2 separate regions of the Homo sapiens genome follow, and region 1 is linked to region 2. A link means that fine-mapping ties the variant in region 2 to the expression of a gene that starts in the linked region. Tissue or cell type: monocytes. Region 2 holds a variant in brackets; the other region holds the start of a gene. All regions are shown on one strand. Distances are between the middles of the regions.

Region 1 (4,238 bases), 45 kb after region 2:
AACTACCTTAATGGCTGTGACGATGAGGGTGGAGGTCAGTGGGTTATGCTGCTGAGTGACACAACCTGTAGTGCTGCAGGAGCCTGGAGGTAGGGAGGGAGCATAGCATGGCTGTCTGGGCAGATGAGTCCAGTGAGATGGGTGGGTTCTGACTTCATGAGGGGAAAGAGGAGGCTCCACAACCCTCATGAGGGACAGAGAGTAGATGGGGTGGGTAAGCACCGGGCCAGGAGTGGTAGCAGACAGCTCTCGTAAGCAGCCCAAGGAAAGGCTAGGAACATAGGAGGTCTGAAGAGGGAAGCCCAAACTGCCAGGTGGGCTGGGAGGCATCATCCCAAACCAGTGATGGTTCCTGAGAAGACTGATGATGAAGAGAGACCTGGAAGGGAGATAGATGAGGAGTGCCAGGAAGCTCCTAGGTAAGTCTGCCAGGGTAAACAGAGTGATCAAGAGCATGTTAAGAAGCAAAATCTTTAATTTGGCAGGGCTGAAGAGGGGCAAAGATTCTTCTGGGTTCTAAAGCCAAGTGGTATGATGTGGACATGAAAATGGGGCACTCATTGCAGAGATACTTTTGACTGGGTTTGAAGTAACAGGAGAGGTCTAAGAGAAACACGAACAGGAATAGGAGAGAGGCAAAACAGAGGGCTGACATCTAGAAACTCTCCTGAGAAAAATAACACTGACTGACGTGGGTAAATCTGAGGGATTATAAAGCAGGCAGAAAACCCCACCAAGGAAATGACGAGATATCCTTCTTTAGATGCCTCCAAAACAGAAGATGTGCTGTTTGGCATAAGTGCCATCCAGGGCACTCAGACCTGACAGGAGAGTCTACAGAGACCCCATAGAACCAAGCAACTGGTGTTCTAAAGCTCTTCCCCTAATGGCCCAGGGCTGAGGAAAAAGCAAAGCCATAACATCCTCAGGGTCACAATAGTACACTGCATAAAAGCCGCTCTGTGCTGGGCACTACGGAGAGCAGAGGAGATGAGAAAGCACTTACACAAGTGGAGATGGCCCCCACACAAGGGGAAGACAGTTGGGAGGGCCTCAGTGCTGACCACAGTGTGGCCCCACCACGACTCAGACTCCAAGGCCCAGTTTCTATTCCCCAAAGTTGGTCACCTTAGCCCACCATACTCAGCATATTTCTCAGAACTGGGATTTCTCAAAACTGGTCAGTAAAAACAATTTAAGCAAAGAGGAAAGTGAGGATATCTTGGGTGGTAGAGGGAAAATGGGACCTTTTCCCAAATAGATAGCGAGCATCCTACTTTCGTACATCTTCCCATGGCTCAGGCACAAGAAAGAGTACACTTTTTGGAGAAACGAAAGTTCTGAAGTCCACGTTCACAGACAGCCAAGAACCCAGATCCCTGAGCTCCTCGTCTGAAGCCCCCAGGGCAGGGCTCACATTCACAGCCCGGCTGCCAGGCCGCTCTCAAATGCCCATCCCCGAACACAGCGTTTGCAAAAAAACCGGGCGTGGCTTCCGCCTTCTCAGAGAGGGCTGTGCAGGAACCCCTTCTCCAGGGAAGTCCCAGGACTGGAAAGAAGAACCTGGCGAAGCTAGCAAGCACGACCAGGCCGAGGATCCAACATGGAAGCCCGCGAAGCCCACAGTGGGTGGCGAGCGACAGGGGGAGGGGCGGGGACTCACTGGGTCCCCCCAAGCCGGGTTTAACCTGTCCACGATCGGCGGGGCAAGGGGTCACGAGGGTGAGACAGCACTCCTGCTGCGGTGTGGAGGGGCAGACAGGTAAGCCCCAGGCCACCTGCCTGGGCACCGCTCCGCGCTCGCGCTCCCGCTCCCCCCGAGTCCCCCGCTCGCCCCAGACAGACCCACCCCTGAGGCAGCCCCTGGCCCGACCCTGGCCCGTCTCGCCGCCCACCAGTCGGTCGGGGACTTCTCGGTGACCACCCGCACGTAGGCCTCTTGCAGCGCTGGCCCGTTCCGGCTCAGGTTCGCCGCCATGGCCCGCCCCGCAGTCTCCGCGCCGCTGCTGTAGCTTCCGGGCCGGGCCGGGCCGCCCCTTTGACAGCCGACAAGCCTCGCCTCCGACAACCGGAAACCCCGCCCCACGGCAGGAAGCGGAAATGGTAGGGGCCAGCCGCACCCGCGGGTCCTAGCGAGCTGTCCGGCCAGCTGGTCTAGCATGCAGGTCCCGCGAATGCCGAAGGACAAGCGGGAGAAGGGAGGACCCGGCCTTCTGTTTGTCCTCAGGGAGGGATCCTGGGGCGCAGACTAGCCCGTCTTCTGGTCCCACCCAAACGGCAGCTCGACTTGGAAGCCTGGCCGCAGGGACCCAGTCCAGCCCCCGCTAGCTGCTCTCACAGCACCGTGCTTATTCTTTTCTAAATCTTGTTATGTCGATGCGCTTATTTGAACGATCTTGGGTTCACTGCAGTCTCCCTCCAGACGAGGTCTTCAGCCTGTTTGTGGACCCTCAACAGTTTGATCTGTGAAAGAAACATGCATAAATGTATGAATACACGAATAAATGAGTGCTAAGTGACGATCACACCGCTACAAACCTAACTGAAAGTGACTGTGCTTTCTCACTCTCACCTGAGTTTTTCCCTCTGCAGTTTGGTCGAGGCCAGGATAGTGGAGGCATGAAGAGAACCTGTCTTGTGCTTCACCTGCACATCTGGCTGGTCGCCCCTAGAAGGTGTCAGTAATTCCTCAATCTGCTCCCCTCCTCCTGGGAGCACCAGTTTTTCCATCCACAAATCTGCATACACTTGACTGAACTAGCTTCTTATCTGTATGATAGAGAAACATGCCAAAGCGCAAGGCAGCTCACGGCTTATTTCCTCCCATGGAGAATAACTCCCCTGCCTCCTTAAAATATAAATCCTGCCGGGCACGGTGGCTCACGCCTGTAATCCCAGCACTTTGGGAGGCCGAGGTGGACGAATCAAGGGGTCACGAGATCGACACCATCCTGGCTAATACGATGAAACCCCGTCTCTACTAAAACAAAAAATTAGCCAGGCGTGGCGGCGTGCGCCTGTAGTCCCAGCTACTCGGGAGGCTGAGGCAGGAGAATGGCGTGAACCAGGGAGGCAGAGCTTGCACTGAGCCGACATAGCGCCACTGCACTCCAGCCTGGGCTACAGGGCGGGACTCTGTCTCAAAAAAAGTATAGTATATATATACATATATACACACACATAGTATATATATGTGTATATATATACACACACACATAGTGTATATGTATATATACTATGTGTGTATATATGTATACATATATGTATATATATGCATATGTATAGGTATACATATATGTATATATGCATAGGTATAGGTATACATATATGTATATATATGCATAGATATAGGTATACATATATGTATATATATGCATAGGTATAGGTATACATATATGTATATATATGCATAGGTATAGGTATACATATATATGTATATATATGCATAGGTATAGGTATACATATATGTATATATATGCATAGGTATAGGTATACATATATGTATATATATGCATAGGTATAGGTATACATATATGTATATATATGCATAGGTATAGGTATACATATATGTATATATGCATATGTATATATGCATATGTATATATGTGCATATGTATATGTATATGTGCATATGTATATATGCATATGTATATGTATATATGCATATGTATATATATGCATATGTATATGTATACATATATTATATATGCATATGTATATGTATATATGCACATGTATATATATACACATATGTATATATATGCATATGTGTATATATATACATATAGTATATATATGTATATATCCACAATCCCTTAAGTCCAGATGTGCTTTGGAATTCAATCTAAGATTTCAGAAAAGTTATACCATGTATGTCCTGGGTAAGCCCTTATCACAGGATCTGGACAGGAACTGGTAATCAGACATGTTCATGCTTTTGCTGTGATATGTGTGAATAATCAGCTAAGTGTGTGATATGTGTGAATAATCAGCTAAGTGGAATATAAGACGACTCTAAATATCCTCATGACAATTAAGGTCAGTTTTTGCTACCAAATGAACTACCAAAATCTTAAGGTGTTTGAGTCTGGATGGTGCAGATAAGGGCTTGTGAACCTAATTTGGACAAAAACATGGTTCATTTGTTATGCCCATTTTTCTTTCTGTTCACATGATTGTTGCTTGTTGTCTTGTTTGTTTTGTGCTGCTATAACAAAGTACCACAGACTATGTAATTT
Region 2 (4,238 bases):
TATTCTGTTGGCCAAAGCAAGTCCCAGAGCCAGCCCAGAATCAAGGGGAGGCCTAACCCCATCTCTTGCTGGGGGAAGCATCAAAGTCACTCTGCGGAAGGGTCACAGATGGAAGGGACTCCTGCAGCCATGTTTGCTATAACCAACCATACCCAGCATAGGCCATGTCCTCCCTAGGGAATTGTCTGTCCTGCCCCACAGGAATGTCATGAGGCAGGGGTTTCTGTATGTCTTATCTGCTATACCTCCTGCACTTAGAAGAAAGCCAGGCACACAACACACCTTTTTGTTTGTTTGTTTGTTCTTGAGACAAAGTCCCACTCTGTCGCCCAGGCTGGAGTGCAGTGGTGTGAACTCGGCTCACTGCAACTCCGCCTCCCGGGCTCAAGCAATTCTCGTGCCTGAGCCTCCCGAGTAGCTGGGATTACAGATATGTACCACTACACCTGGCTAATTTTTGTATTTTTAGTAGAGATGGGGTTTTGCCATGTTGGCCAGGCTGGTCTCAAACTCCTGGCCTCATGTGATCAGCCCCCTTTGGCCTCCCAAAGTGCTGGGATTACAGGGGTGAGCCACCGCGCCTCAACACACTTCTGTTGGGTGAATGGTTAGGAGGATGGCTCTGTGGTCAAATATCCACTGTTGAAATCACATTTCTGCCTCTTATGCGTGTGACTACTTTGGCAACATTATTTTAGCTCAAAATCTCAGTTTCCCTATCTGTAAGATAGAAAAAAATGACAGTAGTGCCAATTCCATATAATTGGAAAAAGAACAAAAATACAGCATAAAAAATAATTAGCACAGTCCTTGGCCTATTTCTCGCCCTCCATAAATGTTAGCAGCTGTCACTTCCCATCCCTGTCTTCTACCCCAACTTCCGGTCTGGGTTCCACCCCTGACTAGGACTTTGGAGACTCCCTCCATGGCCATACTCCTGGCTTCCAACCCTCCTTCCTCCTTGACCTTCCATGTACCAGGCAGCACGTCCAGCCTCTCAGGACTCTCCATCCCAAGAAACAGCATCCATGACAGCCTTGGGGCTTCCAGCAACTTTCTAGCCCAGGGCTTCTCCTTGGTGCTAATAAATGGAACTCCCCATGTTTGGATCTATTTTATTTCAAGAATGACAGTGGCAAATGGGAAAATACTAAATAAATGACATTGGGTCTGTTTATCCAGGAATGTAATGACATTATAGTCTTCCCTTAACTTAAATGAAATAATTCATGATGGAAACAGTGGACAATTTTGTCACCTTGTGGTAGAGTTGAGGTCAGCAAACATCCCTCTTCTCATAAGCCTTCTTAGCCCCCTGGACCCTTCACCATTGCCAGCCATACCTGAACTGCTGGTTGAGCCTGGGCTGGTTAAACAGATGAACCCAAACAGCCTTCATTTTAAGGACACTTCGCTCCTCCATAAGGAATTCTGCAGCCAAATCCCCTGGCAGGGAGCTGGGAATTCTTCTCTGGACCTCTGGCCCAGTCTTCCCACTCCGAGTCCTGTCCCAGGCTTCCAACTACCCTCTCCCCACCACCCCCGCCACCACCGGTTCTTATATGGAACCCATCCAGCAAGCGGCAATGCACACACTCCTTAAAAGGCAGTAATGGTTTCTCAAAAATAAAGCGTCTCTTTTTGTTATATAACCAGCCAGGTCCCAGGCAAGCCACTAGTGCATCTACTGTCAAAAATACGAATCCCACAGCTCTGATGGATCTACACAAATAAAGAAAGGCTGGCCACTTGCCCCAGGTCACAGAGTCCAGAATTGATCCCTGGCAAAGTGGGACTCAGGCCAGCGGGTTAAAGGGTGGCCCCCCAAATTCATTTCCACCCAGAATGTCAGAATGTGACCTTATTTGGTGTAAGGGTCTTTTCAGGTGTAATTAAGATAAGAATATTGGCCAGGCACGGTGGCTCATGCCTGTAATCCCAGCACTTTGGGAGGCTGAGGTGGGTGGATCACGAGGTCAGGAGTTCAAGACCAGCCTAACCAATATGGTGAAACCCTATCTCTACTAAAAATACAAAAATTAGCCGGG[C/T]GTGGTGGCATGTGCCTGTAGTCCCAGCTACTTGGGAGGCTGAGGCAGGAGAATTGCCTGAACATGGGAGGCAGAGGTTGCAGTGAGCCAAGATCATGCTGCTGCTCTCCAGCCTGGGTGACAGAGTGAGACTCCATCTCAAAAAAAAAAAAAAAAAAAAAGAAAGAAAAGGAAAAAAAAAATAAGAATCTTGAGATGAGATCATCCTGAGTTGGGATGGTCTTTCAGGCAAGGTGGCTCATGCTTGTAATCCCAGCACTTTGGGAGGCCAAAGTGGGAGAATCACTTGAAGCCAGGAGTTTGAGACCAGCCTGGGCAACATAGTGAGACATCATCTCCACAAAAAATACAAAAATTAGCCAGGCATGGTGGCACACGCTTGTAGTCCTAGTTACTCAGGAGGCTGAGGCTGGAGATCACTTGAGCACAGGAGTATGAGGTTGCAGTGAGCTATGATTGTGCCACTGCACTCCAGCCTGGATGACAAAAAAAGAAAAAAAAAAAAGCCTAAATCCAATGACTAGTGTCTTAGTGTCTTTATAAGAAAAGGAGAAGACAGCCAGGCATGGTGACTCATGCCTGTAATCCCAGCACTTTGGGAGGCTGAGGCGGGTGGATCACTTGAACCCGGAAGTTCGAGACCAGCCTGGCCAACGTGGTGAAAATCTGTCTCTACTAAAAATACAAAAATTAGCCTGGCATGGTGGCAGGCAACTGTAATCCCAGCTACTGGTTGGGGCTGAGGCAGGAGAATCACTTGAGCCTGGGAGGCAGAGGTTGCAGTGAGCCGAGATGGCACCACTGTAATCTAGCCTGGGTGACACAGCGAGACTCCATCTCAAAAAAAAAAAAAAAAAAAAAAAGAGAGAGAGAAGGAGAAGACAGACACAGAGCAGGCCCAGAGGGAAGGAGGCCATTGCAGGCGGGGCAGAGGGTGGAGTGATGCTGCCACAAGCCAAGGAGCACCAGGAGCATCAGCAGCTTGAAGAGGCGAGGAGGGATCCCCCCTAGAGCCTTCAAGGAAGGGTGGCCCTGCTGATAGCTGGAGTTTTGGCTGTAGTTTCCAGAACTGGGAGAGAATAAATTTCTGTTGTTTTTACCCACCTAGTTTGTGATAATTTGTTATAGCGGTCATGGGATACAAATATACCAGGTTACTCTTAGCCACAGCAATGTGCAGGAATAGATCAGAGAAGGCCCAGGGCCAGCACTGCTGGGGCCAACAGCCCTCAGGAGCTCAGGGCCAGCAGCATCAGCAGTTTGGCCACACACTCTCCCAAATGCTGCTGGCAAGCAGCCCACGGGAGGGAGGAAACCAGGGCAGCAGGGGCAGGCCCCCAAGCAGGGCCACGTCCTGGTCCCCGCAGGCCTCTGGACAGAACGCACACGGGTGGAAACAGCACCAAAGGGAGCTTGGAGAGAGGTGTGCCACAGCGGGGGCGAGGTGGGGAGGGGGGTGCAAAGGTCGTGGGCACTGAGGTATCTCCCCGAGGGACGTCTAGAGCTGAAAGTGGGAACAGGAAACAGCAAGATGAGATTCATCTTGGAAAAATGCAAACTCAATCTGGGCAAAAATAATCGAAAACATAAGTAAGGGATGGGCAGGAATAGTCATGGCTCGGTGGGAGCAGGGAGGGAGGTTGCAGCCTCAGGGCAGCGGAAAGGGCCCAGCCTGGCCGGAAGGTGTCCCGCCACGAGGGTGGCTGGGCAGCCTCCTGACTTTCTGGGAGGCAGTGTCAGAGGAGGGAGCAGGAGGCTGAGGACTTGGACTTCTGGGAATCCCTAAGCCAAGTTTATTGGAACAGCTCACCCAAAACAGAGGGCTGAGGTCTCTACTTCCTGACAGCAGCCTGTGGTACCCACCCACCCAGGCCAGGGCCCTGCCCACTGCTGCCCAGGCCTGCCTTCACCCTCCCCTCTCTCACAGCATTCCCTGGGCCTGTGCTCCTAGGGGAGGCCATGGAGCAGGCTGAGCAGGCACCGTGGACATCTCCAGAGAGAACTCCGGACTCAGAGCCAGGAGGGGAGGCCGGGTGTGTGTCTTGGCTCTGCCGCTCAGACAGAGGCTCCTCGTCCACAAAATGAGAACAAAAACTTATGTTCCTTCCCTCCCTGCCTGCTTCCAAGCAATCCATGCCCTCTGCAGAAATTTTAGAAAGTACAAACAAAATGAAAAATGTTCAAATCACC

Evidence for each region. PIP is the estimated chance that this variant, and not a neighbour inherited with it, causes the effect. A credible set is the group of variants that fine-mapping cannot tell apart.
Region 1: it holds the start of DBNL, and the variant in region 2 is the best candidate, but not a certain one, in a credible set for the expression of DBNL in monocytes (TOPMed, PIP 0.86).

Annotation. Positions count from the first base shown.
Region 1 is chr7:44,042,478-44,046,715 of GRCh38, reverse strand. DBNL (drebrin like) reads right to left here and starts at 2,014. Exons shown (of 13, transcript NM_001014436.3): 1 at 1,896-2,014. The coding sequence starts at 1,978. It overlaps LINC00957 (long intergenic non-protein coding RNA 957), which reads right to left. Exons shown (of 3, transcript NR_072982.1): 3 at 2,420-2,463. RefSeq lists an enhancer at 1,316-1,816 and a silencer at 1,755-1,974.
Region 2 is chr7:44,087,781-44,092,018 of GRCh38, reverse strand. No RefSeq gene overlaps it. Among named protein-coding and RNA genes, the nearest start is that of POLM, 7.4 kb to the right of the region's middle. The variant C/T (reference allele first, on the strand shown) is at 2,049.